Homo sapiens: one gene and its partners. The protein of the gene in region 1 interacts with the protein of each later gene in a biochemical or structural test. Each region holds a gene or a part of one and is shown in the gene's direction. Other genes may lie near its edges.

Region 1 (4,450 bases):
TACAATTTCCCTGTCCTGCTTACTTCTTGAAATGCTATTGCTGTGAACAGTGGCATAAATATCAATAACAGATTCCCAAGGAAAAGCCTTTCTGTCTTCTCACCTGCCCCCTTCCCAAGAATTAAGCATAAGCTCCCTCAGTGCTGTCAGGACGGCTTATGAGGTTTGCTTTTTCAGTTGGTTGTCATAAGGGAGGTTTTTTTTTTTTTGGAAAGGGGCAGGCCCTCATTCACTGCTTGCCCCACCCCCCAAAAGTCATGGCTTTAGAGGTTTCTTTTGTTCCTCCTAGAGAACCTAGGAGCAATGAGGCAGTTTTTCTTACCTCATCGTTCTGTTGTAGTGTAAAAATAGGACATTTAATATATTAAATTTGACCTCATAATACCAAGCTGTCATAAGGCCACAGATGGTTCTTGGTGGTAAAGCCTATATATAGTCTTTGAGGGTTTTGTTTGTTTGTTTGGAGACAAGGTCTTGCTCTGTTCCCCAAGCTGAAGTGCAGTGGCAGGACTATAGTTCACTGCAGACTCCACTTCCCAAGCTCAAGTGATCCTCCCACCTCAGCCTCTGGTGTAGCTGGGACTACAGGCACATGCCACCACGCCTGGCTAATTTTTGTATTTTTTGTAGAGATGGAGTTTGTCACGTTGTCTAGGCTGGTCTTGATCTCCTGAGCTCAAGTGATCCACCCGCCCTGGTCTCCCATAGTGCTGGGATTACAGGGATGTGACACTGTGCCCGGCTGTCTTTGAGATTTATAAATAGCATCAAATCTCACAGAGACTCTGTTGGGAATGAGAGCTGACGGGTGGTAGCCATTGGCTATTGTCAGGGAGGACAGCTTTAGGCTCTGCAGCTGGAGAAGCACAACAGAATGAGGGACCACAGCAAGGGTATGTTGGGTTTGGATCTGTTTTACTTTTCTTGAGTTTTACTTTTTTTTTGAGCTTTACACCTTCCAGTGTAAGTACATATAATCTGAAACTTCTTTGTGGCTGAAGCATTGGTTTCTCTGCATTTATGTATTAGAGTCTCTGATAGGACTTTTTATGAACTCCATGGTGAGTCCTGGTCAGTGCCATAGAAACAAGAAAAGCCATTCCAACAAACTTCACCAGACTTCTTCGGCACTGGTCACATTACAGAACAAATACGTGATCTTATTTGTTCAGAATCGGGATACTTCAGCATAGGAGAATGTTTTAGGAGAGAGGTAGTTGGTCTCCCAAGAATCTGGAAACAAGTAGGTCCAGGGAAGAGCCCTTTGAGGGGATTGAGCCAAGTAGAGAAGAATCCGGAGTTCCCAGGTATTAAAAATAATAATAAAGATTATACTTAGGCCCAGCGAGGTGATGCACACCTGTAATCCCAGCACTTTGGGAGGCCAAGGCAGGCAGATCACTTGAGGCCAGGAGTTTGAGACCAGCCTGGCCAACATGGCAAAACCCCATCTCTACTGAAAATACAAAAATTAGCTGGGCATGGTGGCACGTGCCTATAGTCCTAGCTACTCAGGTGGCTGAGGCAGGAGAATCGCTTGAACCCAGGAGGCAGAGGTTGTAGTGAGCCAAAATTGTGCCGCTGCACTCAGCCTGGGCAATAGAAGGTTATACTGGGAGTAACTGAGTTGAAGGCAGAGTTTTTTTCATTGTAATGTGCATTTGCCCTGTTGTACATGTTGTATTGTTAAGAGAATCTTGCCACTCTCCAAAGAATCAAAAATGGGTAGCATTACAGCCTTCATCTTCCTTGTTCCTTTAAAAAAAAAGAAAATTATTTGGCCGGGCTTGGTGGCTCACGCCTGTAATCCCAGCACTTTGGGAGGCCGAGGCAGGCGGGTCACGAGGTCAGGCTAACATGGTGAAATCCCGTCTCTACAAAAAATTAGCCGGGCGTGGTGGCGGGCGCCTGTAGTCCCAGCTACTCAGGAGGCTGAGGCAAGGAGAATGGTGTGAGCTTGCAGTGAGCTGAGATTGATTGTGCCACTGCACTCCAGCCTGGGTGACAGAGCGAGACTCCGTCTCAAAAAAAAATTATTTCATTGATTGGCTTCTATACATGTTTTCTTGGGAATATGTGGGTGCTAATCAAAATGATGATTTTTTTCAAAGAATACATACCTGACATATTTTGGCAGTAAGAAATATGTACAAAGCTGGGTGCAGTGTAGTGCGCCTGTAGTCCCAGCTTCTCTGGAGGCTGAGAGAGGATCACTGGAGCCCAAGAGGTTGAGTCCAGCCTGGACAACATAGCGAGGTCCCTTCTCTAAAAAATATGAAAGAAAAAGAAATATATGCAACCAGATTGAAGTCATTTTGAAAATTAATTAAAAGAGTTAGTTAGCATAGGGCTCAAGGCAGGGGTTGAAAAGCAGCTTGGAACTTGATCCAGGCTTTTCAAGTCCTCGTTGTCCCATTAGAGTTTTCAGATTTTTCTCTTAGCTTGTAAGATACTGAATTGATTGTTTCCCAGGCTAGAAGGACTCTCCTGGCCATTGAGTGTGTAATCTAGTTGTTCCACTTGGATTTGGGGCCAGTTATGAGGTTTTCCTGCCCTCATCTGGGATTGGCCCAACTGTCTTCTTTGTTTATTGGGTGGAAAGGAGAGGCCCTACATAAGGGCTTTCCTGGGTTTTCTGCTGGTGCCTTCGTGCATCCACAGTGCTGGGACCACCAGCTCACCATGCTGAGATGTGACATGTCCGTGTCTTGCTCAGACCTATGCCAGGTTCAGGGCAGGGATCCTGAGTTCATAAATTAATGCTTATCGCTCGGTCAGCTGGAAGCCATCTTGTCACCATCCTTCCTTCCTTCAAGTGATTGACAGGCAGTCTTTTTTTTTAAAAAAGGTGAAAAGATGTGGTCCTGGGCTGACTGCACTCACTCTTGGTTTGTTAAAGACAGTGCCAGGAGAGGTGGCCCCTCACCCAGGCAGGTGAGCCTTCCCTTAAAGGTGCCTTTCCAGCACTGTGTGGTCATTGAAAGAAAAAGAAGGTAGGTTGATGCAGTGAAGTTTCCCCAGTATTGGCTCCTTGGGGCGGGAATGGGGAGGGCAGTCACAGATCCACAGGCATCAGTGATTGGGCCTCTGAGCACCTTTTGGGACAGCAAGATCCGTTCAGAATAGAAGCAGCTATGAGAAAAACCAGAAATGGGATTTAGCTTATTCTTTTTTTCTCTTTTAAAACATTCTCTTTGATCAGCAGAGCAGTAGCAGTTGCCATTTTTGTATATTGTTACTAGCTTAAACTCATGTTTTTGAGGGTTTTTTTGTGAGCAAGGGAAATGTGTTCCCTACATGCTGGCATGCTGAGGGACAGCCAGTGGCCACCCAGGAAGCCAGTGCTCCGTGACATCCACAAAAGGGTCTGCAAGACCATCTGCTTCCTCTGGCCCTGGGGACAAAGAGGGTCTTTTTTGTTTCCAGGTTTTCCTTTGGTTGAATCAGAAATGAATGAAATGATGATGAAAATGGTTGATGAGATACTGAAAATAGTCCTTGGTTACTAAAACATGAAGGTCTTCGCCTAAAAGACGCAGCAGTGTCTGCTATACAGAGGCCAAGGCTATTATAGTGGTTGAGGCAGGTGCTGGAGTCAGACGGGCCTTGTTGAGTCCTGGGTTGAACTCTCGTTCTACCATTTATAGAGTGCATACCGCGCTCTGGCCAGGCCTGCATGCAGGTGCGGCTGACTCACTGACGTTTTGGTTTTGCTTCCTGCAAAATGAAGAGAATACATAGCTCTTATATCTTTCCTTAGAAATGTAAAAATACTTCTGAAACTTCTTTGAATGTGGAAGAAAGAAAAAAATTAGTATTGAGCACTTTCAGGAGGCTATTTTGTTTGATTCAGATCTTCATAAAGTGGCGGTCTCTTCTATAAGGAGAAAAAGCTGTTGACTTGGGGGCCAGTCTCTGAAGTGCTTAGCATGTCGTCTGTTGTATCCTAGGCATTTGAGCTGGCAACGGGAGATTATTTGTTTGAACCACATTCTGGGGAAGACTATTCCAGAGACGAAGGTGAGTATTGGTGCCTGCTGAATACCTCGGTCTAGGTCTTCTGCCAGCCCTGAACTTCTGTAGAGTACTGTATTTTTGTACTGAAATAGAGCCATGTGTTTGGTTTTCAAACACCAAATTCAGATGCTTTTCCTTTGAGTTTGATGCCCCCTCAGTCTCAGTGAATGGGCAGAGCCTGCCTAGCACAGGCAGCACTCCAGCGAGCCCTCAGGGGCCCTACACCAGCGGCTCTTCCTGGCCTTGCACAGGGCAGGAACCCAGCTGGCTGAGAGAAGACAGATGATACAGACCTGAAGCCTCTATGTGGTCCTTTTGACCATTGATGTGCTGCCCATTTCTCTGTCCTGTTTGGGAGCTGAGTTGAAAACCCAGGAATTCTGGCTTGAATGCCATCTGTAAACCTGACCATCTCCATGCTTATTTGCTTGCG
Region 2 (4,450 bases), on another chromosome or scaffold:
TAATCCGGAGCAAGGTACTAACTCTCTTCAATTCTGTGAAGAGTGAGGAAGCTGCAGAAGAAAAGTTTGAAACTGGCAGAGGTTAGTTCATGAGGTTTAAGGGAAGAAGCCACCTCTGTAATGTAAAAGTGTAAGGTGAGGCAGTAAGTGTTGATGAAGAAGCTGCAGCAAGTTATGCAGAACATATAGCTAAAATAATTGATGAAGGTGGCCACACTAAACAACAGACTTTCAATGTAAATGAAACAGCCTTATATGGAAAAAAAAATACTATCTAGGACTTTCATAGCTAGAGAAAGGTCAATGCCTGGCTTCAAAGGACAGTCTGATTCTCTTGTTAGGGGCTAGTGTGGCCAGTGACTTAAGTTGTAACTAGTGCTCATTTACCATTCTGAAAATCCTAGGGCCCTTAAGAAGTATGCAAAAATCTACTGTGTGCTGATCATTGAAACAGGAAAGCCTGTATAGTAGCATATCTGTTTACAGTATGTTTTACTGAATATTTTAAGCCCACTATTGAGATCTACAGCTCAGAAAAAAAGATTTCTTTCAAAATATTACTGCTCATTGAGAATGTGCTTAGTCACCAAAGAGGTCTCATGGAGATGAGTAAGATTAATGTTAACATCTGTTCTGCAGCCCATGGATCAAGGAGTAATTTCAACTCTCAAATCTTACTTAAGAAATGCATCTTGAGGCTGAGCACAGTGGCTCATGCCTGTACTCGCAGCACTTCGGGAGGCCAAAGCTGGTGGATCGCTTGAGCTCAGGAGTTAGAGACCAGCCGGGGCAGCATAGTGAGACCACCCCCTCCACTGCCAGTCTCTTAAAAAAAAAAAAAAAAAAGGGCGGCAGGGGGAAAGAAAGAAATGCATTTTGTAAGGCTACAGCTACATAGATTGTGATTCTTCTGATGGGTATCAACAATGTAAATTAAAAACCTCCTGAAAGGATATACTATTCTAGATACCATTAAGAATATTTGTCTCCAGGCACGGTGGCTCACCCGTGTAATCCCAGCACTTTGGGAGGCGAAGTGGGCGGATCACAAGGTCAGGAGATCGAGACCATCCTGGCTAACATGGTGAAACCCCATCTCTACTAAAAATACAAAAAATTAGCCGGTCTTGGCAGCGGGCACCTGTAGTCCCAGCTACTCGGGAGGCTGAGGCAGGAGAATGGTGTGAACCCGGGAAGAGGAGCTTGCAGTGAGCCAAGATAGCACCACTGCACTCCAGCCTGGGCAACAGAGCGAGACTCCATCTCAAAAAAGAAAAAAAAAAAGAATATTTGTGATTCATGGGAGGAGGTCAAAATATCAACATCAGCAGTTCACGGTGGCTCACGCCTGTAATCCCAGCACTTTGGGAGGCTGGGGCAGGCAGATCACCTGAGGTCAGGAGTTTGAGACCAGCCTGCCCAACATGGTGAAACCCCGTCTCTACCAACAAAATACAAAAATTAGCCAGGCATGGTGGCACGCTCCTGTAGTCCCAGCTACTTGAGGAGCTGAGGTAGGTTAATCGCTTGGGCCCAGGAGGTGGAGGCTGCAGTGAGCCGAGATTGTGCCTCTGCACTACAGCCTGGGCAACAGTGAGATTCCGTCTTAAAAAAAAAAATCAATTAACACAACAAGAACTTGGAAAAAGTTGATTCTGACCCTCATGGGTGACTTTGAGGGGTTCTAGACTTCAATGGAAAAAGTAACTGTAGATGTGGTGGAAATAGCAAGAGAACTAGAATTAGAAGTAGAGCCTGGCCGGGCCTGGTGGCTCACGCCTGTAATCTCAGCACTTTGGGAGGCCTAGGCGGGTGGATTACGAGGTCAGGAGTTCACAACCAGCCTGGCCAGATGGTGAAACCCCGTCTCTACTAAAAATACAAAAAATTAGCAGGGCGTGGTGGCGCACGCCTGTAATCCTAGCTACTCTGGAAGCTGAGGCAGAGAATTGCTTAAACCTGGAGGGGCAGAGGTTGTGGTGAGCCGAGATCACACTACTGCACTCCAGCCTGGGCGACAGAGCGAGACTCTGTCTAGAAAAAAAAAAGTAGAGCCTGAAGGCTGGGCCTGATGGATCACCTGAGGTCAGGAGTTGGAGACCAGCCTGGCCAACATGATAAAACCTTGTCTCTACTAAAAATACAAAAATTAGCTGAGCGTGGTAGTGGGATTGTTACTGCATAGTAATCCCGGCCACTCCAGAGGCTGAGGCAGGAGAATTGCTTGAACCCAGGAAGCAGAGGTTGCAGTGAGCCAAGATCGGGCCACTGCACTCAAGCGTGGACAATAGAGTGAGACTTTGTCTCAAAAAAATAAAAGGGCCAGGCAAGGTGGCTCACACCTGTAATCCCAGCACTTTGGGAGGCCAAGGCAGGCGGATCACGAGGTCAGGAGATTGAAACCATCCTGGCTAACACGGTGAAACACCGTCTCTACTAAAAACACACAAAAAAATTAGCCAGGTGTGGTGGCACGCACCTGTAATCGCAGCTACTCAGGAGGCTGAGGCAGGAGAATCGCTTGAACCCAGGAGGCAGAGGTTGCAGCGAGCCGAAATCACGCCATTGCACTCCATCCAGCCTGGTTGACAGAACGAGACTCTGTCTCAAAAAAAAAAAAAAAAAAAGTAGAACCTGAAGATGTGACTGAATTGCTGCAATTTTTAAATAAAACTTGAACACATGGAGAGTTGCTTCCTGTGGACAGGCAAAGAAAGTGGTTTCTTGAGGTGGAATTTACTGCTGAAGGTGCAGTGAACATTGTTGAGATTATAACAAAGGATTTAGAATATTTTATAAACTTAGTTAATAAAACAGTGGCAGGGTTTGAAAGGATTGACTCCAATTTTGAAAGAAGTTCCACTGTGGGTAAAATGCTGTCACACAGCATTGCACGCTACAGAGAAATCTTTCATGAAAGGAAGAGACAACTGATGCAGCAAACTTCATTTTAAGAAATTGTCACAGTTGGCCCAGTGCGGTGGCTCACGCCTGTAATCCCAGCACTTTAGGAGGCCGAGGCAGGCGGATCACCTCAGGTTGGGACTTCCAGACCAGCCTGGCCAACATGGAGAAACCCCGTCTCGACTAAAAATACAAAAAAATTAGCTGGGCGTGGTGGGGCATGCCTGTAATCCCAGCTACTCGGGAAGCTGAGACAGGAGAATTGCTTGAACCAGGGAGGCAGAGGTTGCGGTGAGCCAAGATTGCGCCGTTGTACTCCAGCCTGGGCAACAAGAGTGAAACTCCATCTCAAAAAAAGAAAAAGAAAAACTGTCACAGCTGCCCCAACCTTCATTAGCCACTGCCCTGATCCATGAGCAGCCATCATCAGGGCAAGACCCTTCACCAGCAAAAATATTACAACTTTGTGAAGACTCAAATGATCATTAGCATTTTTTATTTATTTTTTAAGAGAATATCTCCCTGTTGCCCCAGTTGGAGTGCATTGGTGCGATCGTAACTCACTGCAGCTTCCAACTTCTGGGTTCAAGAGATCCTCTCACCTCAGCCTCCCAAGTAGCTGGGGCTACAGGCGCACGCCACCGCACCTGGCTTTTTGTTTGTTTGTTTGTTTGTTTTTGAGATGTAGTCTCACTCTGCCGCCCAGGCTGGTGTGCAGTGGCGCGATCTCGGCTCATTGCAAGCTCCGCCTCCCAGGTTCACGCCATTCTCCTGCCTCAGCCTCCCGGGTAGCTGGGACTACAGGCACGTGCCACCATGCCCAGCTAATTTTTTGTATTTTTAGTAGAGATAGGGTTTCACCGTGTTTGCCAGGATGGTCTCGATCTCCTGACCTCAAGATCCACCCGCCTCAGCCTCCCAAAGTGCTGGGATTACAGGCGTGAGCCACCTCGCCTGGCCCACACCTGGCTAATTTTTAACAAAGTTTTGTAGACTGGGTCTTGCCCTTTTGTCCAGGCTGGTCTCAGACTCCAGACTCATGATTTAATATCTATGGTTGAGTGATTCCCTACTTCTTACTCTCTTACAGAACCACTCTATAAGATAGTTGTTGTAGTTAGCCCCATTTTACTCTTCCTGAGGCACTGGGAGATCAGGGTCACTTGCCCAAGGTCACACAATTAGTAAGCAGAGCTCGAAACTTCACCCCACCCCTGACTCCTACCTTTGTTCCTTTTGTTAGGCTTTGTTATGTCATCTGCTTTTTTTGTGTGGTGGGAAAGCACATGGCCAATGTTTCTAGAAACTTCAAATAGTAAAAACAAAATAGTATCTTTATTTTTGCTTTCACCGCAGAGGAGTCTGATAATTATCCTCAAGAAAATTTATTGATTCTCAGTAACTGTATTGTATTCCTCAAAGTTATTTTTCCTAAGTTTTCTCCTCTCACCAGCTAAGGGAAGTTGTCCTAGGGCCTAGGCATTTCCCTGTCTGCCACACCTCACCTCTTACTTTAGCCAAACTACTGCTAAATTCTGCTCCTAAA
Region 3 (4,450 bases), on another chromosome or scaffold:
AGCGGAGCCCCACGAGGAGGACAGTGGGTGGTGTGTGCTGAGAGGGGTGGACCGAACAAAACGGCATGTGCAGAAGCTCAGCAGGTGGCGGCCCTGTTGTCCAGAGCCCAGGGAATGAAGTGATGTGGCTGCCAGGTGCACCGCAGGGGACGTGCAGGCTGGCTGAGAATAGTGCCAGCTGGGCAGAGCCTCATGAGGTCACTTTGGGGTCTGCCTGCACTCAACGCTTTCACAGCCTGGCCTGGCTGGTCAGCCTTTGCTTGCACTTCTTCAAGAGCAACGAGCCAGCACTGGGAAGTTGAATTTGGCGGCTCGTCTACACTAGGATTTCAGTTTTCAAGACTGCCAGGCAGGTGCCATCACTCCTCCTTCATAGTATTTGCCAAACCTGCACAGGAGAAGTAGGATTTGAACCTTCTCTCCCACTGGGTCACTATAGACAAATCCTTAACTTCCCTTCATCGATGATTTTCTGCCTCATTCTGAGGAGCCCTGGGGGCCACACTCCCACATCAATCAGAGCAGTCCCATTTTTAACTGTTTTATATGTTAGGTTTCCACATGAGATTTTATCTTTCCTAGTGCTTTAAAAAGCTTGACCTTCACCATGAGTTATTACTAAATGCCCTTCAACTCTGCCATGCTATGAATGCAGATTTAAATGTATATAATTTTGTAGCAGGATGTTTCAAAACGCCAGATCAAAAATGTTGAATGACAATAAATACCATTTATTGAGCACCTGCTGTGTGCCAGGCACCAGAGTACATGTTTTACCTACAGCTCTTCCCTTAATTATTCCAACAGCCCTGTGAGGTTATCACTAATTGCCCATTTTCTAGATGACAAAACTGAGGCTCAGAGATGTTAAGTTGTTCAAAGTTACAGAGCAAGTACATGCAGAAGCTGGGCCATGAACCCAGGAGGTCTTCCTGATTCTAAAACCTGAGCTCTTCATCCACAAACACATCATAAAGACTGGCTGGGGACTGTTATTCCTTGCTGTCTATTGCCAAAATACATGGAGAAAGAAAGAGAATTAATAGCAGGTGAAAATATGTCACAGTCGCGCCAGTGATTTTTGTGAAGGCGGCTTTTGTTTCTGCTTGGGTGGGAACCTCGCAACTCTGAATCCCCTGAGCATTGATGGGAAGCGCACCAAGGCAGGCATCCACACCCCACAATCCGGTTTCCCTGGAATCTGTGGGAGCATGGAGCCGGTGCCCGTGTGCGTGCAGCCAAGAACAGAACTCAGCCCCCTGATGTTTATGCAGGAGCACTAGTGACGCGTGGACTTGAGAGAGGTCCAGAACACTGCCAACGCCCAAACACTTCCGTGAGGGCGACTGTCGTGCAGGGAGCAGCTGGGAGGTGTGGACACCCCCACTCTCTGTCCCCGACTCAGAGAGGAGAGTACAGCCCCTCACATGCAGCCTTCATTTCCAGCCTCCAGCCTCCTTCACTGAGGAGTTATTTTGTCCCTGATAGTGAGGCAGCATTGAGAATTCGCAGCCATGGCGACCCGGCATTAGATCCTGGCTCTAAGTCTCGGCTCTGCCACCTCCTAGCTTGGGAAGGCTTTTAAGTTCTCTGAGTCTCAGTTTCCCCATCTCTGTGTTAAACTACACGCTGTTTGGAAAGCCCTAGCACAGCGCAATAGGTGTTATCAGTAAATTGCAGCAGCTGGGGCTTTGGCTTCCACCTTTATGACAAGACTGTTCCTCACTATAGCAGTGACCCAGGTCCCTGGGGTCTCTCGCAGGCTGGAAGCAAGCCAACACTGAGCCCTGACCCTGCATATGAAAATAGGATGGAAATCTTAGCTCAAAGAACCTGTGAGTTCCTGAAAAGGTCCAAGCAAGCAAGCCCTTACCAAAGGACAGATGATTGCTGCAGGAGCTTTCTTCATCCCTGTGGACAAATCATCACGAAGCCCTGTTAGTTTTTCCTCCTGGGTATATCTCTCAGAGCTGTGCCCTCTGTCCCTCTCTTCCTCCACCACTGTGGTCCAGGTTGGCATCACCTCTCACCTGGACTCATCTTACGCAGTGGCCTCCTAACTGGTGTGTCGGTCAGGGTAGGTTGGGTTGTGCTGCAATAACAACCAACCCCCAGATCTCCATCAGCACAACTAAGACTCATCTCTTGCTTGTGCTTTATGTCCCATGCAGCTGGCAGGAGGCCACTGCTCATGATGATCACTCAGGGACCTGGGCTGGTAGAGGCTTGGTCCTGACACCAGCCTCCATGGTCCCCTCCACTGAGGGGAAGGAGTGTGACAGATGTCTCATTGGCTTTTCCCAGAAGGGACCCACTCTGAGCACAGTTCACTAGACAGGGTGAGCCACCTGGCTTTATTTCAGAAGAGGTGCAGAAGTACAGACTTACTGTGTGCCTGGACACAGAGCGCCAGAAAGGCTGAGAGGAGAATATGGTGCTAATGGTAGCCACTGTCCCCACACATGCACTGTGCCCCCACCCCCAGTCCACTGGCCTCTCTGCAGCCAGAAAAATCTTTCTAAAATGCAAATCTGATCATCGGGCACACACACAGTAGCTGAAGAGAGGTTTTATGGTGGTTTCATGAGGACACGGATAGTATGTGGTGTGAGTGTAAGCTCAGAGCTTACAGGGGCAGGATCCTTGCCTGGCCTCCCCTCCTTTCATTAAGCTCGGTGACTCTGTCATTCTTGACCAAATGTCACAGAAGCATTTTGGCCACTAGGCTTCCCTGGAATTAACAAGGGAGAGGATTTTAAAGGCTAAAGTGTCCTCCTGAGATGTTAACACTCCATTGACAGCCTTCACTCAACAGAGATTTACCAGTACCTCTGAGGGGCCAGGCCTATGCCTCCCTGGCACTGGGAGGATGGGACAAACAGCAGGGGCCCTCCCTGGAGGGGCTTGCCATACAGCGAGGGGACAGCCTGTGAACAGACAGTGACAATGCAGTGTGATCCCTGCTGGCACACAGGAGAGCCAAAGAGGGGTGAGAACTATGGGAGTCCAGTAAGGGCACTTCCCCCAGCCCTGGGGTGTGGGGGGTGATTAGGGGCATATAGGTTGCAGGGGACACCAAAGCTGCCCTAAAAGCCTGTGTGCTATGTCACAAAGCTCAGGCCTTCCCAGGCCCAGTGCAGAGCCAGTGCAGGGCTCTGAGTGGGAAAGGGGCTGCTCCGATCTGTGTGTTAGGAAGATCACCAGAGTGTGAATGAACAGGAGAAAACCCATCTGGAGGCAGGAAGCCAATTAAGAGGAGGCTGCAGAACTGAGCAGTAGCAAAGGCCTGAATTTGGGGAGTACCATGAGCACTAAAGGTCTCCCCTCCACTCCCATCCCAGCCGTGACTCAGCCACTGAAGCCTGTGCTTTAGTGGTGGGCCATTAATAACACCCAGAGCTCAAGATTCTGAGACTCTGCAGCCCCATGCCCTCTGCCCCATGCCCTCTGGGGCTTCCCACATCCTGGGTTTGGGGCGGCAGTGGGAATGTCAAATTCTCATCCCGTGAAAGCTTCAAGTGTTGTCTCCACACCTTCCAAGTCAGCCACCCACTCAGATAAAGCACCTTTTCAGATTACAAAGTCTTTTTCACGATTAGCATTTCATTTAACCACCACAGTGACCCTGCAGTTACTGTGGTTCTACATAAGAGAGGCACGATCCTCATTTGACAGACGAGGCTTGCATAGACAGAGTTCATTCTCTCCACAAATACCAATTGAGTGTCTATTTTGTGCCAGGCCCTGAGCTCTCGCTGCTAAATGTCAGAATCAGAATCTGCACCAGGCCTCCAGGTTCTAGGTCTAGTGGACATTGAGGCTGGTTGTTAAATGAGGTCATTTATACTCTAAAGACTAGATTTTACTAATCCATCAGGGCTAATGCAATTTCTTTCCCCTGAAACATGAGATAATTATTTTCCAAAAGATACTTCCTAGTTGAGCTTTCTTTTTTTTTTCAAACTGGAAAATCCAACTCAGATCTTAAAATAAAGTCCTTTCAAAATCAGTTTTAGAAGAATGAATGAATTTTTGGTAACCTTAGCTGGTATTCCAAAACTCCATGTAGAAATTTAGAGAAACGTGATCAAGATGAACTTTTCCTGTGAGACTATATGAGTGAAATATAATCAACTTTGTTTAGATACCTCTTGGGCTCTTAGCCAAACTCAAGAAATTAGTGAAATCATTTGGAAGAACCTGTTCACATGTAGTGTTCTCAGCCTGCCCAGTTTCCCTGTGCCCTAAGCCTGCTGCTGCCCTCCCACCCCCTTTCCTCCCTCAATGGGCCTTCCTGCCCCCTCACTGCACTAGTGGCCACCCCAGCTCCCTTCATCTCTGGTCACATCTGCAGGCAGCAAGGAATTGGAGTTGGAGGGAAGGGCTGGTGTTTCAGGAGGAAAGCCAATATCAGGTGGGCACCAGTGAGGAGAAGCAAGTAATTACATCT
Region 4 (4,450 bases), on another chromosome or scaffold:
TTTAGTCAGTATGTGGTTAGGTACTTGCTCCCAGCCTGCAAGTCATGTTAACCATTCCAGTCACCTGGATATTGAAGTAACTTTCCAATAAAATGACTCAGGGCAGAGTTATATAGACACCATTTAACAAATGTCTACTGATACAAAGGAGGAGGTAGATTTTTTTCTCTTTTTCTTTTTTTTTTTTTTTTTTTTTTGAGACAAAGTCTCACTGTGTCCCTCAGGCTGAAGTGCAGTGATAAAATCATGGTTCACTGCAGCTTCTAACTCCTGAGTTCAAGCGATCCTCCATCTCAGCCTCCCAAATAGTGTTAACTACGGGTGCGTGCCACCACATCTGGCCAATTTTTTTAAAAGTTTTTTTGTAGGGCCAGAGTCTTGCTATGTTGCCCAGGCTGGTCTTGAACTCCTGGGCTCAAGTGATCCTCCGGCTTCAGCCTCCCAACATGCTTGGATTACAGATGTGAGCCACTGCACCCTGCCAAGAGGCAGCTTTTAAATGACTATTCCTGCAGGAGGGGAGTAAGTTTTTCCTCTGTAAAAATTTCCTTAGAGGTACGTCTTTCTGCTAAACTTTTGTGGAAGAGTTCATTTAAAAAATAATTTCCAAATATTTATATCTCTTTATACAAGATTAAACATTTTGGAATATTATTAAGGATAAACCTTTCAGAAGGGTTTAAACATTTTAAATCTAAGTTATATTAGAAGTGGTCAAGAGTTTATAATAGTTGTCAGCTCATTTAATGTCTGTCAACACAGAAAAATAAGATTAAGTGTATATGTTATGCAGAATATTCAAGAATATGGTTGATCCTTGAACAACTTGGGGGTTAGGGACACCAACTCCCCTCACAGTAAAAAATCCAAGTATAACTTTTGACTCCCCTCTAAAACTTTACTCATGGCCTACTTTGACTGAAAGACCTACTGATAACATAGTCAATTAACACATATTTTGTATGTTATAATGTATTGTATACTATATTCTTACAATAAAGGAAGAATTCTTTATTCTTACAATAAAGAGAAGAGAAAATGTTATTAAGAAAATTATAAGGAGGAAGAGGAGGGGTTGGTCTTGCTGTCTCAGGGATGGCAGAGATGGAAGAAAATCCATGTATAAGTGAACACATGCAGGTCAAACCTGTGTTGTTCAACGGTCAACTGTATTTTGAACATGTAAATATAAACATTTCAGGTTATTTAATAATTTGAATATGTAACATGAACCTAAACTGCAAAATATTTGATTATTTTCTTACTTTCCCTTGAAGTTCTTGTTGATTTATATTATCTACATTTTTTTTTAACTTTTAATATTTTTAATAGAGGTACATTCTTGCTTTGTTGCCCAGACTGGTCTCAAACCCCTGGCCTCAAACTATCCTTCTGCCCCAGCCTCCCAGAATGCTGGGATATACAGGCATGACCATGCCTGGCCTATGCTTTTTATATTTAGATAATTTACTATTTATTATTCTACACTGACTTTAAAATTCGATGGAAATGGCAGTACAATTTGTATCATGTTAATTTTTAAAATTAACTCTGACTTCTAACTTGTGTCTCACATAGGAGACTTGGTATGGTCTAATGCCTGGTAGATAGCAGCCAATTGGACCACCTCTTGATTTATCTAGGCATGGAAATCAGAGATCATGATACACAGTGGAAAAGACCATTACACAAACTGGACCTTCTCTGGATTTGTTAAAATCGCATGCTCTCGCCTAAGTATGACATCTTGAAAACTTTTAACAGAGCCTCCACATCTCTGAATTCTCTGTCCTTACAGCAGACAAGATCCAAAGTGAGGTGGAGACTGTTCCAGAAGCAGGACGACATGAAGAGCTTTACTGGGGGCAAATCTGGAAACAGATTGCAAGTGATTTAATCAAGTATGAAGACTCTATGATAAGTATTTCTCGGTTCCCCAGACAAGGTGATTTGTCCTGCCAGGTTAGGGCAGGACTATATACAACTCACACAGGACAGAAATTTTACCAATGTGATGAGTACAAAAAATCCTTCACTGATGTCTTCAACTTTGATCTTCATCAACAGTTACACTCAGGAGAGAAGTCTCATACATGTGATGAGTGTGGAAAAAGCTTCTGTTACATCTCAGCCCTTCATATTCATCAAAGAGTCCACATGGGAGAGAAATGCTATAAGTGTGACGTGTGTGGTAAGGAATTTAGTCAGAGCTCACATCTTCAAACTCATCAGAGAGTCCACACTGTAGAGAAACCATTCAAATGTGTGGAATGTGGGAAAGGCTTCAGTCGTAGATCAACACTTACTGTACATTGCAAATTACACTCAGGAGAGAAACCTTACAATTGTGAGGAATGTGGAAGGGCCTTCATACATGCTTCCCATCTTCAGGAACATCAGAGAATTCATACTGGGGAGAAACCATTCAAATGTGATACATGTGGTAAGAACTTCCGTCGTAGATCAGCACTTAATAATCATTGCATGGTCCACACAGGAGAGAAACCATACAAATGTGAGGACTGTGGTAAGTGTTTCACTTGTAGCTCAAACCTTCGTATCCATCAAAGGGTCCACACAGGAGAGAAACCTTACAAGTGTGAAGAATGTGGTAAGTGCTTTATTCAGCCTTCACAATTTCAGGCCCATCGGAGAATCCACACTGGAGAGAAACCATACGTATGTAAAGTGTGTGGTAAGGGTTTCATTTACAGTTCAAGTTTTCAGGCCCATCAGGGAGTCCACACTGGAGAGAAGCCATACAAATGCAATGAGTGTGGGAAGAGCTTCAGAATGAAAATTCATTATCAAGTGCATCTGGTAGTCCACACAGGGGAAAAACCCTATAAATGTGAAGTATGTGGTAAAGCCTTCCGTCAGAGTTCATATCTTAAAATCCATCTGAAAGCACATAGTGTACAGAAACCTTTTAAGTGTGAAGAGTGTGGGCAGGGCTTCAATCAGAGCTCACGACTTCAGATTCACCAGCTGATCCATACCGGTGAGAAACCATACAAATGTGAAGAGTGCGGAAAGGGATTTAGTCGTAGAGCAGATCTTAAAATTCATTGTAGGATCCACACAGGGGAGAAACCATATAATTGTGAGGAGTGTGGGAAGGTCTTCAGTCAGGCCTCGCATCTTCTAACCCATCAGAGAGTTCACAGTGGGGAAAAACCATTTAAATGTGAAGAGTGTGGGAAGAGCTTCAGTCGGAGTGCACACCTTCAAGCCCATCAAAAAGTCCACACTGGAGAAAAGCCATACAAATGTGGGGAGTGTGGAAAGGGCTTCAAGTGGAGCTTGAACCTTGACATGCATCAGAGGGTGCACACAGGAGAAAAACCCTATACATGTGGGGAGTGTGGGAAGCACTTCAGTCAGGCCTCAAGTCTCCAACTTCATCAGAGTGTCCACACAGGAGAGAAACCATACAAATGTGATGTATGTGGTAAAGTCTTCAGTCGGTCTTCACAATTACAGTATCATAGGCGAGTTCACACTGGGGAAAAACCTTACAAATGTGAGATATGTGGTAAGAGGTTCAGCTGGCGATCAAATCTTGTAAGTCATCACAAAATTCATGCTGCTGGTACATTTTATGAAAATGATGAGAATAGTAAGAACATCAGAGAGTTGTCAGAGGGAGGAAGTTCTACAAGGTGATTAAAAAAAAAAAAACAGAACTCATGTACAACCTGAATGCTTGTAATTAGATTTCATAGGAGGGAAAAATTTTCTTTATCAACCTCTTTGAATTTATTTGATTTGTAACGCTCCACATTTCCACCTAGACTTTTTTTTGTTTTTTATTTTTTGTTTTGAAACAGAATCTCGCTCTGTTGCCCATGCTGGATGCAGTGGTGCTATCTCAGCTCACTGTAACCTCCACTTCCCGGGTTCAAGTGATTCTCCTGCCTCAGTGGATTACAGGTGCACACCACCACGCCTGGCTAATTTTTGTATTTTTAGTAGAGATGGAGTTTCACCATACTGGCCAGGCTGGTCTCAAACTCCTGACCTCATGTGATCCACCCACCTCGGCCTCCCAAAGTGCTGGGATTACAGGCATGAGCCACCGCCCCTGGCCTCCATCTAGACTTTGAAATGATTGCCTTCTAATTACAGTAGCATTCTCTTATTTAAAATATTTGTTTTATTTAAGTCAGTGTTTAAGCAATAGCTCAGCATATCCCAGTGGTCCAGTGACCACACAGCTGAGAACCCTTGTTAAGTGGTACAGTAAAGCATTCTGTCAAAACTTTGACATTTATGACATGTTACCTAGGAAATAGGACTTAGAAAATGAGTTTGACCTGGGCTTTAAAAAAGTATACTGATGAAGGTGCCAGAATTGATGTCCATTAGACTGTAAGCTCCATGGGGGCAGGAACTTTGCTACCGAATCTATACAACCTTAACATTGACTAGTGCTTGTAGGTGTGCTCAA
Region 5 (4,450 bases), on another chromosome or scaffold:
GGGCATATATTGAAGACAGTAAGTAGTTCTTTGGCTCTGAAAATGGTGCAGGCTGAAGTCCTCTGGAGGCATCTTCATTTGTACTTGTGAACCTCACAGGGAGGTATTTTAATCTGTTTTAGTTAGAGCAACTCTGCAGCCTGGGTTTCTTAGGACCGTACCAATTTCCCATGTCCTTCTTCATCCGTGAGTGCTAACATTTGGTTTTTAAAATATTGTGCAAATGAGATCTTTCAACACTTAGAAATTCCCCCTTGAGAACAGGCATAATACATGATCTGGTTACTAAGTGGTTGCTTTGGAATTTTCATTAATAATCCAACAGTCCTCATGTTGGCTGAGACTCTGAGGAAGACTCTAGGTCTCTGAGAAAATGTCAGAAATTGCTTGACTGCTGAGGCTTGATTGTGGGATGTAAAAACCAGGTACCAACAAAGGAATATGATACAGCTCCCAAAGTACATGAATTGTTACTGAGAGATTGGTGAACATTACTGGAGCACTGAGAACTGCCTCTTAAGGTCAGGAAAACTGTTTTCCATTCAACCCAACCTGCAGGAGGAACCAAGCCAGAGCAGCAGCTGAGAGCTGAAAGAGTGAGACAAGAGGATGAACCAAAAAGACAATGATAATATTACTTTTTTTTTTCATTTCATGCATATTTCCCATGCAGCTGCTGCCTTCCTTTGAGATTGGTGCATGGACGGAAGACGATGTGGTAAGCTCTTTGTATTCATGCCTTATTTGACTTGAGCAGGTATTTCATAAATTTTTCCCTAAGTTTTTAGGGGAAGAGATTGGGCCTTAGGAAAGTCTAACTAGGAGAGGTTGACAAATTCTTTTCTCACTCTGTCTCCCAGGCTGGAGTGCAGTGGTGCGATCTCAGCTCACTGCAACCTCCACCTCCTGAGGTTCAAGCGATTCTCCTGCCTCAGCCTCCTGAGTAGCTAAGACTATAGGTTCCCACCAGCATGCCTGGCTAATTTTTGTATTTTTAGTAGAGATGGCGTTTCACCATGTTGGCCAGGCTGGTCTCGAACTCCTGACCTCAAGTGACGTGCCCGCCTCAGCCTCCCAAAGTGCTGGGATTATAGGTGTGAGCCACTGTGCCTGGCCTTTTTTTCTGTTTTTAATGCAATAATGATTGAAAATAAAGCCTCAAGAGTAAAGCAAGTATCTCTGCAAATCTTCTAAGTGGGTTCTACCTTCCTAAATTACTCTGAAACTATTCCAGAATACAATAACAAATACCCATGAGGAAATTAAAGTGGCAGCTCGGGAAAACAAATGAACATACTTGAAAAAAAAGTGATATTAAATCTTTTTACAAGAACAGGGATGGCCTCGAGCCATGGTAGAGGAGGATCTGGTCAAGGCAGTGCTGGGCTGGTACACCGCTGAACCGGCTTTCCTTCCACCTCAGGCCTGTTTGAAAGTGAGGCATCATATTTGCCAGCCTTATTCTGGCCTCCCAAGTGGGAATAGACACAAGCACGCCCAGACATTCTCTGTAGCTTTAGCCAGAGAAGCCCTATGTTTTTGAGAGGCTGCACTCAGACTGTTGAAGTCCAAAAGAAGTCCTGCACTCTGCATTCTTGATAGAAACCCTGAGAAACAATCCAACTTAGTCTGTTACATCACCATATCTATTTTTTTAGTGACAAAACAGGTATGAAAATTCCTGATGTGAAAACTCAGAGACTAGGTTGGGCACGGTGGCCTGTAATCCCAGCACTTTGGGAGGCTGAGGCAGGAGGATCACTTGAGGTCAGGAGTTCGAGACCAGCCTGGCCAACATGGTGAAACCCCATCTCTACTAAAAATACAAAAATCAGCCAGGTGTGGTGGCACATGCCTATAATCCCAGCTACTTGGGAGACTGAGGCAAGAGAATCGCTTGAATATGGAAGGTGGAGGTTGCAGTGAGCTGAGATCACACCACTGTATTCCAGCCTGGGCAACAGAGCAAGGCTTCATCTCAAAAAAAAAATTTTTTTTAAGTTCTATAAAACTCAGGGACTTATGCTATCCAGGTCTATTTAACAAGCTCAGGGTATCACTAAATGAAAATGAAAAAAACAAAAGATGTAATGCCAGCCTTAGTGGGTTTGGGCTCCAGCCCAGGGAACAGACCAGGTGCCACAAAGTGCAGACTAGCTACTGGAAACTCCTCAAAAGATCTGTTTACCTAGCTCAACCTGGTTTTGGGCCCAGGCATTTCCCTCTCTGCCCTTTGTATTCTTTTGAAGTGCACCTGCTTTCAACATTAGCTAACCTCTTTGGCTTCCGTAGGGTAAGGAAACTTGGCACCAGTTGCCACTATTTCTTCCCATTCACTGAGCCCCAGTGAGTCTCACTTTCCTGCCAGCCTTGCTTAACAAGGAAAGAGGACTCAGGGTCTCCTTTATTCACAAGCCTGGATATCATCTCTTTATCCCTAGCTGCAGAGTTTCCCCTGTCATTTGAAAAGAAATTTTTGAAAAATCACTGAGTTCTAACAGCTATTTTTAGTCTTTGCTCTGAGGCTGAGTGGCTTCCAGGCCACTTAAATAAAATTCCAGAGTTGAGGGCTCCCCAGAGAATCACAGGGACTGAGTCTGGCCTCCCATCCTTCTCTCCTCACCAAGGTACTGTGAGAGGCCACCAGTAAACCCAGACCCTGTGATATACAGGGACTAAGGGTCACTGGGTCCAATCTCCTCATTCTACATAGGAAGCTCCACACTTTGACTTGGCTGGGGCCACGTGGCTACTTCATGACCTGGCCTAGAACAAAAGATTCCTTCTGTCTGTTGCTCTGTCCACTGCTGTGTGGTCCCTGGAACTCATACAATTCCTGAGTAAACTGGTGCCCCTCAGCAATCCAGGGGACCACTGGCACATAAATGGAAAAATCACTATAAGTAAGAACCCTCTTGAAAGGATTTAAAAATATCTCCCAAAGAAGGAGGAAAACCAAGGGGCTTTTAACTGTCCAAGACCCCCGAAGAGAGGGATATCTCCCATTTGAAAGCTTGAGGTTTTAAAACTACAAAGAGAAAGTCTTCTATTTTACCTTTGTGGTTGAGCCAGGAATTAAAGTTATTTTGATCTATTGAAAACTCTATGTTTACTGTGAAGACTGGCCACTGACCATGTGTGAATCTTCAAAACCGTATGTGTCCTCTCTTTCACAGTATTGTTGGGTTCAGCAGCTCGTCAGAAAAGGCAAGTGGAATAAGTTACCTTCTTCAATCATGGAGTTAACTTTGTTTTGGATGTGATTTCATCTAATTTTATTCTGCTTTCTAATCACTTCCTTCAGGTGACTCTTCAGCAGAGATGAGTGTATATGCAAGCTTGTTTAAAGAAAACAACATTACAGGGAAGCGGCTGCTGCTGCTGGAGGAAGAAGACCTGAAAGACATGGGCATTGTCTCCAAGGGGCATATCATTCACTTCAAGGTACCTGAGAAAGGGACAACATTCCATCAGCAAACCCTTTTTTTGTTTGTTTGGTTTTTTTTGAGGCAGAGTCTTGCTCTGTTGCCCAGGCTGGAGTGCAAAGGCACAATCTTGGCTCGTTGCACCCTCCGCCTCCTGGGTTCAAGTGATTCTCCTGCCTCAGCCTCCCAAGTAGCTGGGATTACAGAAGCGTGCCACCACACCCAGCTAATTTTTGTATTTTTAGTAGAGATGGGGCTTCACCATGTTTTCCAGGCTGGTCTCCAACTCCTGACCTCAAATGATCCACCTGCCTCAGCCTCCCAAAGTGCTGGGATTACAGGCGTGAGCCACCAGGCCTGGCCTCCATCAACAAATCTTTATTGAGCACCTACTATGCAGCAGATCACGTGTTAGGGGCTGCAGATGGAAACAGTGCTATGCTGGTCATTACTGTGCTGAAATGCTTACACAAGTTGATAATCAGCAGCTGCCCCCAGGCACCCCTATTCCTTCCTCATAATCCAAACAGCAAAAAGGTGCATACATGGTATAGTAGGACTCACAGGGAGATAACCTGAATATCACCCCCCTGCCCTCAGGAAGTCTCTAATCTGGTGGAGAAAACAGATACTGCCTATGCGATAATGGTAAATGACGGCTGTAAGAAATACCACAAAGGCAGTGTGGTGCCTGGAAAACAGCCATCCACCCAGAATAGCAGGAGGTGACTCAGTTTAATTCTAGAGAGGACAAAAATCCATCAGGAATCCCTAAGGACCCCAGAATTTCTGCATGGCCAAAGGGAAACCTAAGCCAATGCAGTAACCTAAAGGCATTTGTAATTTTTGTCATTATGACCTGGAACAGACACCACCATGTATGTGTTTTAATCCCCACTTACTCAGGAAGTTCTAACATTTCCCCCAAAACTTAACTGTTAAGTAGTTTCAAAGCTAAACCTCTGTGTTCATTGTGGTGGTCGTGGTCATGGTTGTTTTTTGTTTGTTTTTGTTTTTTCAATTTA
Region 6 (4,450 bases), on another chromosome or scaffold:
CCCCAGAGCAGGCAGTGGAACTCAGTGCCCTCCTGGCCCAGACCAAGTTTGGAGACTACAACCAGAACACTGCCAAGTATAACTATGAGGAGCTCTGTGCCAAGGAGCTCTCCTCTGCCACCTTGAACAGGTGAGGCTGTTGAATATAGTATTGTTTACAACTAGAATAGGCTTAAACAGGATGAAACTAAGGTTGGAAGGTAAACTAATCACACATAATATGCAGTTTTATGTACATTTTTGAGCTCTCTGATGTTCGAGGCACTTAAGAAGTCATACATAATATACATGTTATGTCAAATACTGTACCAGAGGAATAGAGGATTTGCATGTGATACAGACCAAAGGGTATCCAAGCAAGGGGACAGAAAGAATGGCCATCAGGACAGAGGGAGCAGCAAGACCAGAGACACCAGAGCATGAACATGGCAGCATCAGGGCTACTGCATATATTCATAGAGCTATCAAATGTATAAGCATTTCCAAAAGAAGATGAATCTGTGGTACATACACATAATTTGTGAAGTTAAGACTGGGCCATTGCCCAATTTAACCAAATATTTTCAAAAAATTTGTTAGCCTTTTATTTGAAAAATATGTAAACACAATATGAAATGCTATATAAAATGGGAATTTTTTAAATCTGTGCCTTTAAGTACAAATCTCCTAAAATAAAAAATCTATTATGTATATTGGTGTTTTCTTCATCCCAGCAAGAATTAAACCAGGAGATCTAACATAGGCATTTTAGTTATCTATTCCTGCATAACAAGTTACCCCAAAACTTAGTGACATAAAACAACAAAAATTGTCTCACAGTTCTGTAGGTCAGGAATCTGGCCATGTCTTGGCTGGGTCCTCTGGCTCATGAGACTGTAGTCAAGCTGCAGGTAGAACTCTGTCTCATCTGAAGGCTCGACTGAGGGTGGCCTCCATGCCAGGTTGACTCCTGTGGTTTGTTGGCCTACCTCCTTCCCTGGCCACAGGGGCCTCAGGGGTCAACTTTATACTTATAAACTATATGTGGACAAATGCATGAGACTTTCCAATATGTAAATTTGACTTATGTATATTTTTAGAGACTTTCCATAATTCTTCCAATTCATCACCCATCCAGCATCCCCAAAGTGTTTTTACCAAGTATTTAATAGTTGAGATCCCAGTGTCTTAGACGTTTTTTATAGTAAGTTCGCTAAATACATGAAACATCAGTAATACATAAGTTTTAAGTTGTTGTGATTCATCAGTGTTAGTATATTTCACTCGTGAAGACTACATAGGTTTATCTCTAAAGCTAATATCTGTATACTTAATTCTCTGTCCTCTTGGTGTCCTCCAGCATTGTTGCAAAACATAAGGAGTTGGAGGGGACCAGCCAGGCTTCAGCTGAATACCAAGTTTTGCAGATTGTGTCGGCAATGGAAAACTATGGCATAGAATGGCATTCTGTGCGGGATAGCGAAGGGCAGAAACTGCTCATTGGGGTTGGACCTGAAGGAATCTCAATTTGTAAAGATGACTTTAGCCCAATTAATAGGTAAGCCAAGACTTAACTTTTTTTGACCTAAGCATGTGTATACATCTGTAGCTGTCAATGTAATAGAAAATAGGAAGGGATTTACTCGACAGTCAGCTCTTAGGAATGAAAGATTTCATTTTGGTATGTACATTAATTTTATTCAGGCCTAAATAACCATTTTAAATGTTATTCAAGGTATACAATGTGGCAGAGTTAACGTTTTCCAAATAACCCATTCACTGCCATAAAAAACTTGTTTTCAGCTCTAGACATGCATGTGCGCACACCCAGCACTTGCTCCCATACTTCCCTCCACATATGCCCAACTGCTTTTCACTGTATCTTTACAATAAGGCAGCATTATGGTGATGTGATAACCCCAGAGGAAGCGTCTGATTTTTCTGCTAGGTCATGAGCAAATGGGGATCCCACAAAGGCACACACATGGTGAAGAATCACTCCTTCTAGATCTGCTTTCTTTTCTCTTCCTGTCTCTTAGGATAGCTTATCCTGTGGTGCAGATGGCCACCCAGTCAGGAAAGAATGTATATTTGACGGTCACCAAGGAATCTGGGAACAGCATCGTGCTCTTGTTTAAAATGATCAGCACCAGGGCGGCCAGCGGGCTCTACCGAGCGATAACAGAGACGCACGCATTCTACAGGCACGTATCTCGTGTGCTTGGTCACCTCAGCACCACAGCTCTCAGGTTTTTAGGTGACAACCAGGTTTCTACGGTTCCTTGGATTGTTGTGTCAATGAGTCTAGTACAGAATTTAAGAAATTCTGAACATTTTGTTTCCGTAGTAGCAGTGGAGTCCTTATTAATGTAGTCTTGTTTTACCCACAGAAGGTGCATGTGTGTGAGCTGCACAAACACATTCTCTGCTTACCTCCTACCGTATTCTCTTATGCCATTAATCTAGACACAAAGTGTGTTAGGAGATTTCTATGCCTATTTAATCAATACAACAACCCTAAGGGGTTATTATTACCCTAATGTTAAAGATGAGGGAACTGGGAGGATAATTATTTACTTAGTCTAGGACTCAGCTTCAAAGCCAAGTTTGATTACCCTAAAGGTAACCCTGAGGGACTGGGCCTGCTCCACTGCTCAGGAGAAGGATAGCACAGATCATCTTTTCTTTCTGGCAGAGCTGCTATCCTGAGTCGTCACTGTGTATGGAAGGATTTTTTAATAGCAATATTGATTCCCTCATTTCAGAGGGTACTTTAAAGCCAAGTTGTGATTGGACTCACGTATTTGGACAATTAAAGCTAAGAAATTTAAGTCGTAGACAACTTTAAACTTTTTTATTTTAAAATAGATACACAAATTGTGAAACAGGATGGGAAATTTTTAGACATTTCTAACCTAAAAGCCAAGACTTCAGGCAGATGCCCTTTTTCTTCCATAAGCAACTTCACTCAGTAGCGTCTGTCCTGGGGAGGAGGTACGTGCTCACTGCCCTCTGTATTTACTGCTTTACGGAAGCCATAATGTCAGGAGATGTTAGAGAAACAGAGGTGTAATCACTGAGAATATTTACCAGACGTAAAACTGGAAGGACTTACTTTCATACATGCAGACGAGACTATGAAACATCTGCTGACATTTCTGTTCTTATTGACAACAGCGAATAAGGGTGCTGCCAGGCTCTTTGGTGTTAAAGTAGATGTTCAATCTTGCCTTGCAGGTGTGACACAGTGACCAGCGCCGTGATGATGCAGTATAGCCGTGACTTGAAGGGCCACTTGGCATCTCTGTTTCTGAATGAAAACATTAACCTTGGCAAGAAATATGTCTTTGATATTAAAAGAACATCAAAGGAGGTGTATGACCATGCCAGGAGGGCTCTGTACAATGCTGGCGTTGTGGACCTCGTTTCAAGAAACAACCAGAGCCCTTCACACTCGCCTCTGAAGTCCTCAGAAAGCAGCATGAACTGCAGCAGCTGCGAGGGCCTCAGCTGCCAGCAGACCCGGGTGCTGCAGGAGAAGCTACGCAAGCTGAAGGAAGCCATGCTGTGCATGGTGTGCTGCGAGGAGGAGATCAACTCCACCTTCTGTCCCTGTGGCCACACTGTGTGCTGTGAGAGCTGCGCCGCCCAGCTACAGGTAGGGGAGTCAGCTGCCCACTTTTGCCTGCAGCCTCACCTATCCCTCCTCTTAACGGGGAGTAGGAGCCAGGTACTGGCTCGCTAATGCACAGACGGGGAATGCCCATCTTCACCCGGAAAGGGTCTTTGTATTTGGTGACCTAAAAGGCATTGCCCTTTAGAAACATTTTAGATTAGCATACTATTTTCAACAACATAATTACTCCAAATTATGCAGTGTTTTCAAGTTCTGAAAATGAGGCTGAGATTCCTGGGTAACATATCTAGTTAGCGGCTTACCTGAGGACAAGAATCCAGGCCTCCTGAGGCCTGGCCCAGGGCTGCTTCCTCTATTTCAAGTTGCCTCCCTTTTTCTGACACTTAGGAGGATGGTCTTTATTACTTAAGATATTTGGGAAAGAATACTTCTCAATTATCCATGGATGGGTTGTTGACTCTGTGATATTGGTGATTAATTTCCTTTTATGATTGCAAATGCCTCAAGGGCATATGGGTTGGCTGTTATTTATTAGCAAGTCAAACTAATTTTAATATTAACACGAAAAAGAGAACTCACATATAGTTTTCTTCCTTTCTTGCATGAAGAAGAATTTTAAATTTCCTCTTACAAGTTTTTTCAATTTGTTTTTATTTCTCAGATGTGTTTGCCAAATGTCACTGTGGTTTTATGTAAAACTGGTTCTAGATAATACTTAGTCCTTCAGAAGCTGCTAATTTCAGAGCTAATAAGACCAAATGACCCCTGTGTCCTTTCCCCAGAAGCAGTCATAGGCTTGTCTTTTTCTGCCCACCTATTCTGACTCTCATCCCT
Region 7 (4,450 bases), on another chromosome or scaffold:
GGTATCTATTAAAAAACTATTACCCAGAACACATCCTGAGTTGTATCTGTTGTCAAGACTGGAGGAACTAGAGATAGTAAAGATGCAAAGTGGTTAAGCATGAGTTTCCTAAGATGTAGTTCTGTAAAGGACTCTCTCTACCCAGGGTGTCTTAAATCTAACACTGCTTGTGTTCTGAGGGGTCAGCTCCCACAGTCAGGGACATTTCTCTTCCAGTTCGCTAAATGACAACCTGCTTTGGAAACGTGTCTTTTCTTTCAAGAAAGAAGTATCTAAGTTCTGAGATGTGAAATTCTTTAAGGACAAATAAGATAAATAGCCTACTGTCTGAACTGAAACGAATTCTTCCCTGTAAAAAGAAATGGAGTTGTTAACTTCTAGAAGTTCTTTTAGCTCTGCTGGCATGGGAAGAGTCTTTAAGGGGGATTCAAAGACTCTTCCCATGCCAGCAGCACTGGAGGTAAACCATGGGTAGGCTGGTGGTTCTCAGCCTTTGGGGCATGAAAGAGTCACTGCACTTGCCTTCTTCACTTGTACCTGCCCAGGTCCTGTCTATAGAGTTTCAGATTTAGGAGGGTGGGGTGAGGCCCAGGCATCTGTATGCTTAAGAAGCTACCCACTGGTGATTCTGAAGCCCATCAAAGACTGAGAACCACTGGTGCAAACCATGGGTAAATAGGGCTGAACTACTCAGTGGAGCATCAAAAGGACAAAATATGGTCCAGTCGCTACTTCAAACAAGCATTTCACAGGATGGAGGTAGCCAAGGCAATATGCTGGTTCACATGAATCACTCCAGATTGACCTCAAATAAACCAGAAAAGGGAGGAAAGAAATGCTTTTGACCTTTCTTTTGTAATTTTTCTTTTCTTCCTTTGTATATTTTTTATTATATAGGAGTGACACATAATTTTAAATGGCAATGCATGAAGGAGATAGTAAGATAAAGAATGTAGGGAGTTGGGGATAAAATATAATCAATCAATCAATATATGAAAATGCTTACAGAGCACCTACTCTGTGCCAGGCTCTGTGAAAGCTGAAGGGGGCTGGGGGAGATCAGAGAAGAAGACAGGCTCCAGTAGCTTGTGAGAGTGCCACTGAGGAGTGCAATGCAAACAAGCATCAGTGGCACATGAGTGACAGGAATGCAATGAGTCATGCATATGATGGGACCAGTGTGGCCCAAATGGTGTCTTCAGGCCCAGCTTTGGGTAGGGTGGGACCTGAGTTGAGTCTTGAAGAATGATCAGGATTCAGAGGTGGCCAAAAGTGAGCAACCATGTCAGGTCCAGCAAAGGTGTGGAGATGGGGATGCTCAGGGCTTATGAGTACACGGGGTTGTCTGAAGCAAGTGGTATATGAAAGGAGCAATTGGAAATAGGACAGCAAAAAAGCCAACAACAGTGGCAGGAGGGGGCCTTGAATGGGAGGTAAGTGGTATCTGCTCCCTTGTAAGTAGTGGGGAGTAACTGGAAGTGTCTACACACAATAGGAGATTGACTTGGGTTATGTTTAGAAAGATTGATAGCTGGACTTCGTGCTTTAGTGGGAAAATCAATGAACTCAAAGTATGATGGATACCCTAAAAGTCCTGACTTGATCACTGCACAATCTATGCATGTAACAAAATTGCTCATGTACCCCATAAATTTGTGCAAATGAAAATCGGGAAAAAAAAAAAAAGAAAAAGAAAAAAAACAGGAAAAAACAAACAAACAAAAGAAAGAAGATCTGGATTCCAGGTCTGCCACGCACTGGTTGCGTGACTTGCTTTAAGGGTAAGTTTTTTTTTTCTATAAAATGTGATCAACATTCATAAAACCATAGAATTTATTATTTGGAAAAGCTTCCAGAAGTCATCCAGTCTGACCTTCTCTGATGAGATAAGTTCCCAATCTAACACTTTGGGATATACGCTATGTGGGTTTAAGGAAGAGTAGTGAGATAAAATGTGAGCTGCTGCTGTTTTTGCCATTGCTATTACGGCTGCATTCACTGTGACCATGTTGGAATAAGGAGAGCCCTGAGGCAGAAGTCAGTGAGGAGGCTATCCCAGTGGTCCCATCAGGAGGCCAAGTGAGTCCAAACAAGGGCCAAAAGACAGAGTGTGTTGTGGAATACAGAAGTGAATACAAAATTAGGTGCATGCCTTGGAAGAAGCCTGTGCAAATAGTGTATATTAGGGGCACCAACACCGAAGACTCAGCAGTTTCCTGGTACATTCACCCCTGGAAAGGTTAGTGTCCACATCTAGAATGGTGATATCTTTGATGGGCTTGACCATTACTGTCTAAGATATTGTAAATTGAAGAGTACAGACAAACTAATTGAGCTTTAAGTTTCCTTTTAACTCTGAAGAAAGCCTATGTATCCTGTGAGGAAGGGAGTTGCTGTTCATTAAAATCGTTTGATTTGGAATGGTGTAATCTGAAGTGCTGGCAGGCCAGTCCTGTGCAGATGTTCCTTAGAATGCTGAAGGATCAGAGCTGAGGATCACAGGGGCTCAGGGCTAGGGATTTTATCTGAACTTCTGCTCAGAGCTACAGGTGACGGAGGAGGTTCCCCAGAGGAGGGAGCATGGAGAAGAAGTACAGAAATAAGGACTTGCTTTAAAAAATGTCTTTTGGGGCTGGGCATGGTGGCTCATGACTGTAATCTCAGCACTTTGGGAGGCCGAGGCAGGGGGATCATGTCAGGGGATCGAGACCATCCTGGCCAACATGGTGAAACGCCGTCTCTAGCAAAATACAAAAAAATTAGCCGGGTGTGGTGGCACCCACCTATAGCCCCAGCTACTTAGGAGACTGAGGCAGGGGAATCGCTTGAACCCGGGAGGTGGATGTTGCAGAGGGCTGAGTTTGCACCACTGTACTCCAGCCTGGTGACAGAGCAAGACTGTCTCAAAAAAAAAAAAAAAGGAAAAAAAAGAAATATCATTTGAGAGGGAGGAATGAGGCACGTGAGGAGTTAGCCAAGGTGATCAAGGAATAAGAGGTAGGAAATAAATGCAATGTCCTAGGCAAAGGAAATCATGTGAACAATGGCTCAGAAGCAAGACAAGCCCGGATGTGTCCCAGAAAACTCAGAGCTCTGCTTGGCTGTGCTGAAGAGGGTGTGAATGGATATTGGGAAGGCAGATAAAAATGTAAGTTAGGGGCCAGGCGCAGTGGCTCACATCTGTAATCCCAGCACTTTGGGAGGCTGAGGTGGGCAGATCATGAGGTCAAGAGTTCGAGACCAGCCTGGCCAATATGGTGAAACCCCGTCTCTACTAAAGATACAAAAAATTAGCTGGACATGGTGGCGCATGCCTGTAATCCCAGCTACTCAGGAAGTTGAGGCAGGAGAATTGCTTGAACCAAGGAGGCGGAGGCTGCAGTGGGCCAAGATTGCGCCATTGCACTCCAGGCTGGGCGATAGGGCAAGATTCCATCTAAATATATATATATATATATATATATATATATATATGTATTTATACATGTGTATATATATATATATATATGTATTTATACATGTGTATATATATATTTATACATGTATATATATATTTATACATGTATATATATTTATACATGTGTGTATATATATATATATAAATATATATATATATATATACACACATAGGCTCTGTCCTAATCTCTTTGAGCTGCTATGACAAAATGCCATGAACTAGGTAGCTTATAAACAACAGAAATTTATTTCTCACAGTTCTGGAGGCTGGGGAGTCTATCAGTGCACCAATAGATTTGGTGTCTGGTGAGGGCCACAATGTGGTTCATAGCTGTCACCTTCTCACTGGGTTCTCACATTGTGGAGGAGGATAACTCTATTCTCTTCAGCCCCTCATGAGAACACTAATCCCATTTGTGAGGGCTCCACCCTCATGACCTAATCACCTCCCAAAGCCTCCACCTGCTAATGCCAACACCTCAGAGATGAAATTTTAGCATAGGAATTCTGGGGGGACACAAACATTCAGATCTAGCAGATCAGATCATGAAGCATCTCTGATGGCAAGCTGGGGGATCCAGACTTTTGTTTATAAAGTGGAAGACTGCTGTGCCCCTACCTGCCTGTGGAGCAATTGTAGTTTAAAAGAGGGAAGTGCTTAATTATCTAAACATGGTGCATTTGGCCCTGCATCTGAGGCAGGGTGTTTTGGCGTGGGAGGCCTTTGCAGCACGTCTCTGGTTACCCACAGGCTTTGGTGTGTAGAAGTTTTGTGCCAGTTACCCCATATCCTATATCAACCTCTATGGACTTCAGGGTGATGGTTTCTTTTCCACTTTTGTTTAACGTTATTCTATGGTAAGAGGGAAAAGAAACAAGTGTCCGACTGGAGAAATAACACAAAAGGGGAAGGAGGGGAGGATGTGCAGTGAATGGAGTCCAACTGGGAACCCATTACCTAGAATAGAGACGAAGTAACACCATGTCCCAGTTA

The links.
Region 2: of the proteins of SRPK2 (region 1) and RNF4, one has a biochemical effect on the other in vitro, tested with the Homo sapiens proteins (one large-scale study listed by BioGRID and IntAct).
Region 3: of the proteins of SRPK2 (region 1) and RASGRF1, one has a biochemical effect on the other in vitro, tested with the Homo sapiens proteins (one large-scale study listed by BioGRID).
Region 4: of the proteins of SRPK2 (region 1) and ZNF234, one has a biochemical effect on the other in vitro, tested with the Homo sapiens proteins (one large-scale study listed by BioGRID).
Region 5: of the proteins of SRPK2 (region 1) and MAP3K20, one has a biochemical effect on the other in vitro, tested with the Homo sapiens proteins (one large-scale study listed by BioGRID).
Region 6: of the proteins of SRPK2 (region 1) and MYLIP, one has a biochemical effect on the other in vitro, tested with the Homo sapiens proteins (one large-scale study listed by BioGRID).
Region 7: of the proteins of SRPK2 (region 1) and CLIC5, one has a biochemical effect on the other in vitro, tested with the Homo sapiens proteins (one large-scale study listed by IntAct).

What each region holds. Positions count from the first base shown.
Region 1 is NC_000007.14:105,126,563-105,131,012, reverse strand, and holds part of SRPK2 (SRSF protein kinase 2), read left to right. Parts: intron 1-2,120; exon of another isoform or gene 2,121-2,227; intron 2,228-3,950; coding exon 3,951-4,020; intron 4,021-4,450. UniProt on the Homo sapiens protein: Serine/arginine-rich protein-specific kinase which specifically phosphorylates its substrates at serine residues located in regions rich in arginine/serine dipeptides, known as RS domains and is involved in the phosphorylation of SR splicing factors and the regulation of splicing.
Region 2 is NC_000004.12:2,471,774-2,476,223, forward strand, and holds part of RNF4 (E3 ubiquitin-protein ligase RNF4), read left to right. Parts: intron 1-4,450. UniProt on the Homo sapiens protein: E3 ubiquitin-protein ligase which binds polysumoylated chains covalently attached to proteins and mediates 'Lys-6'-, 'Lys-11'-, 'Lys-48'- and 'Lys-63'-linked polyubiquitination of those substrates and their subsequent targeting to the proteasome for degradation.
Region 3 is NC_000015.10:79,080,183-79,084,632, reverse strand, and holds part of RASGRF1 (ras-specific guanine nucleotide-releasing factor 1), read left to right. Parts: intron 1-4,450. UniProt on the Homo sapiens protein: Promotes the exchange of Ras-bound GDP by GTP.
Region 4 is NC_000019.10:44,154,454-44,158,903, forward strand, and holds part of ZNF234 (zinc finger protein 234), read left to right. Parts: intron 1-1,798; coding exon 1,799-3,666; 3' UTR 3,667-4,450.
Region 5 is NC_000002.12:173,229,016-173,233,465, forward strand, and holds part of MAP3K20 (mitogen-activated protein kinase kinase kinase 20), read left to right. Parts: intron 1-673; coding exon 674-718; intron 719-3,176; coding exon 3,177-3,207; intron 3,208-3,304; coding exon 3,305-3,444; intron 3,445-4,450. UniProt on the Homo sapiens protein: Stress-activated component of a protein kinase signal transduction cascade that promotes programmed cell death in response to various stress, such as ribosomal stress, osmotic shock and ionizing radiation.
Region 6 is NC_000006.12:16,141,681-16,146,130, forward strand, and holds part of MYLIP (E3 ubiquitin-protein ligase MYLIP), read left to right. Parts: coding exon 1-130; intron 131-1,339; coding exon 1,340-1,537; intron 1,538-2,018; coding exon 2,019-2,183; intron 2,184-3,216; coding exon 3,217-3,637; intron 3,638-4,450. UniProt on the Homo sapiens protein: E3 ubiquitin-protein ligase that mediates ubiquitination and subsequent proteasomal degradation of myosin regulatory light chain (MRLC), LDLR, VLDLR and LRP8. Activity depends on E2 enzymes of the UBE2D family.
Region 7 is NC_000006.12:46,005,152-46,009,601, reverse strand, and holds part of CLIC5 (chloride intracellular channel protein 5), read left to right. Parts: intron 1-4,450. UniProt on the Homo sapiens protein: In the soluble state, catalyzes glutaredoxin-like thiol disulfide exchange reactions with reduced glutathione as electron donor. Can insert into membranes and form non-selective ion channels almost equally permeable to Na(+), K(+) and Cl(-).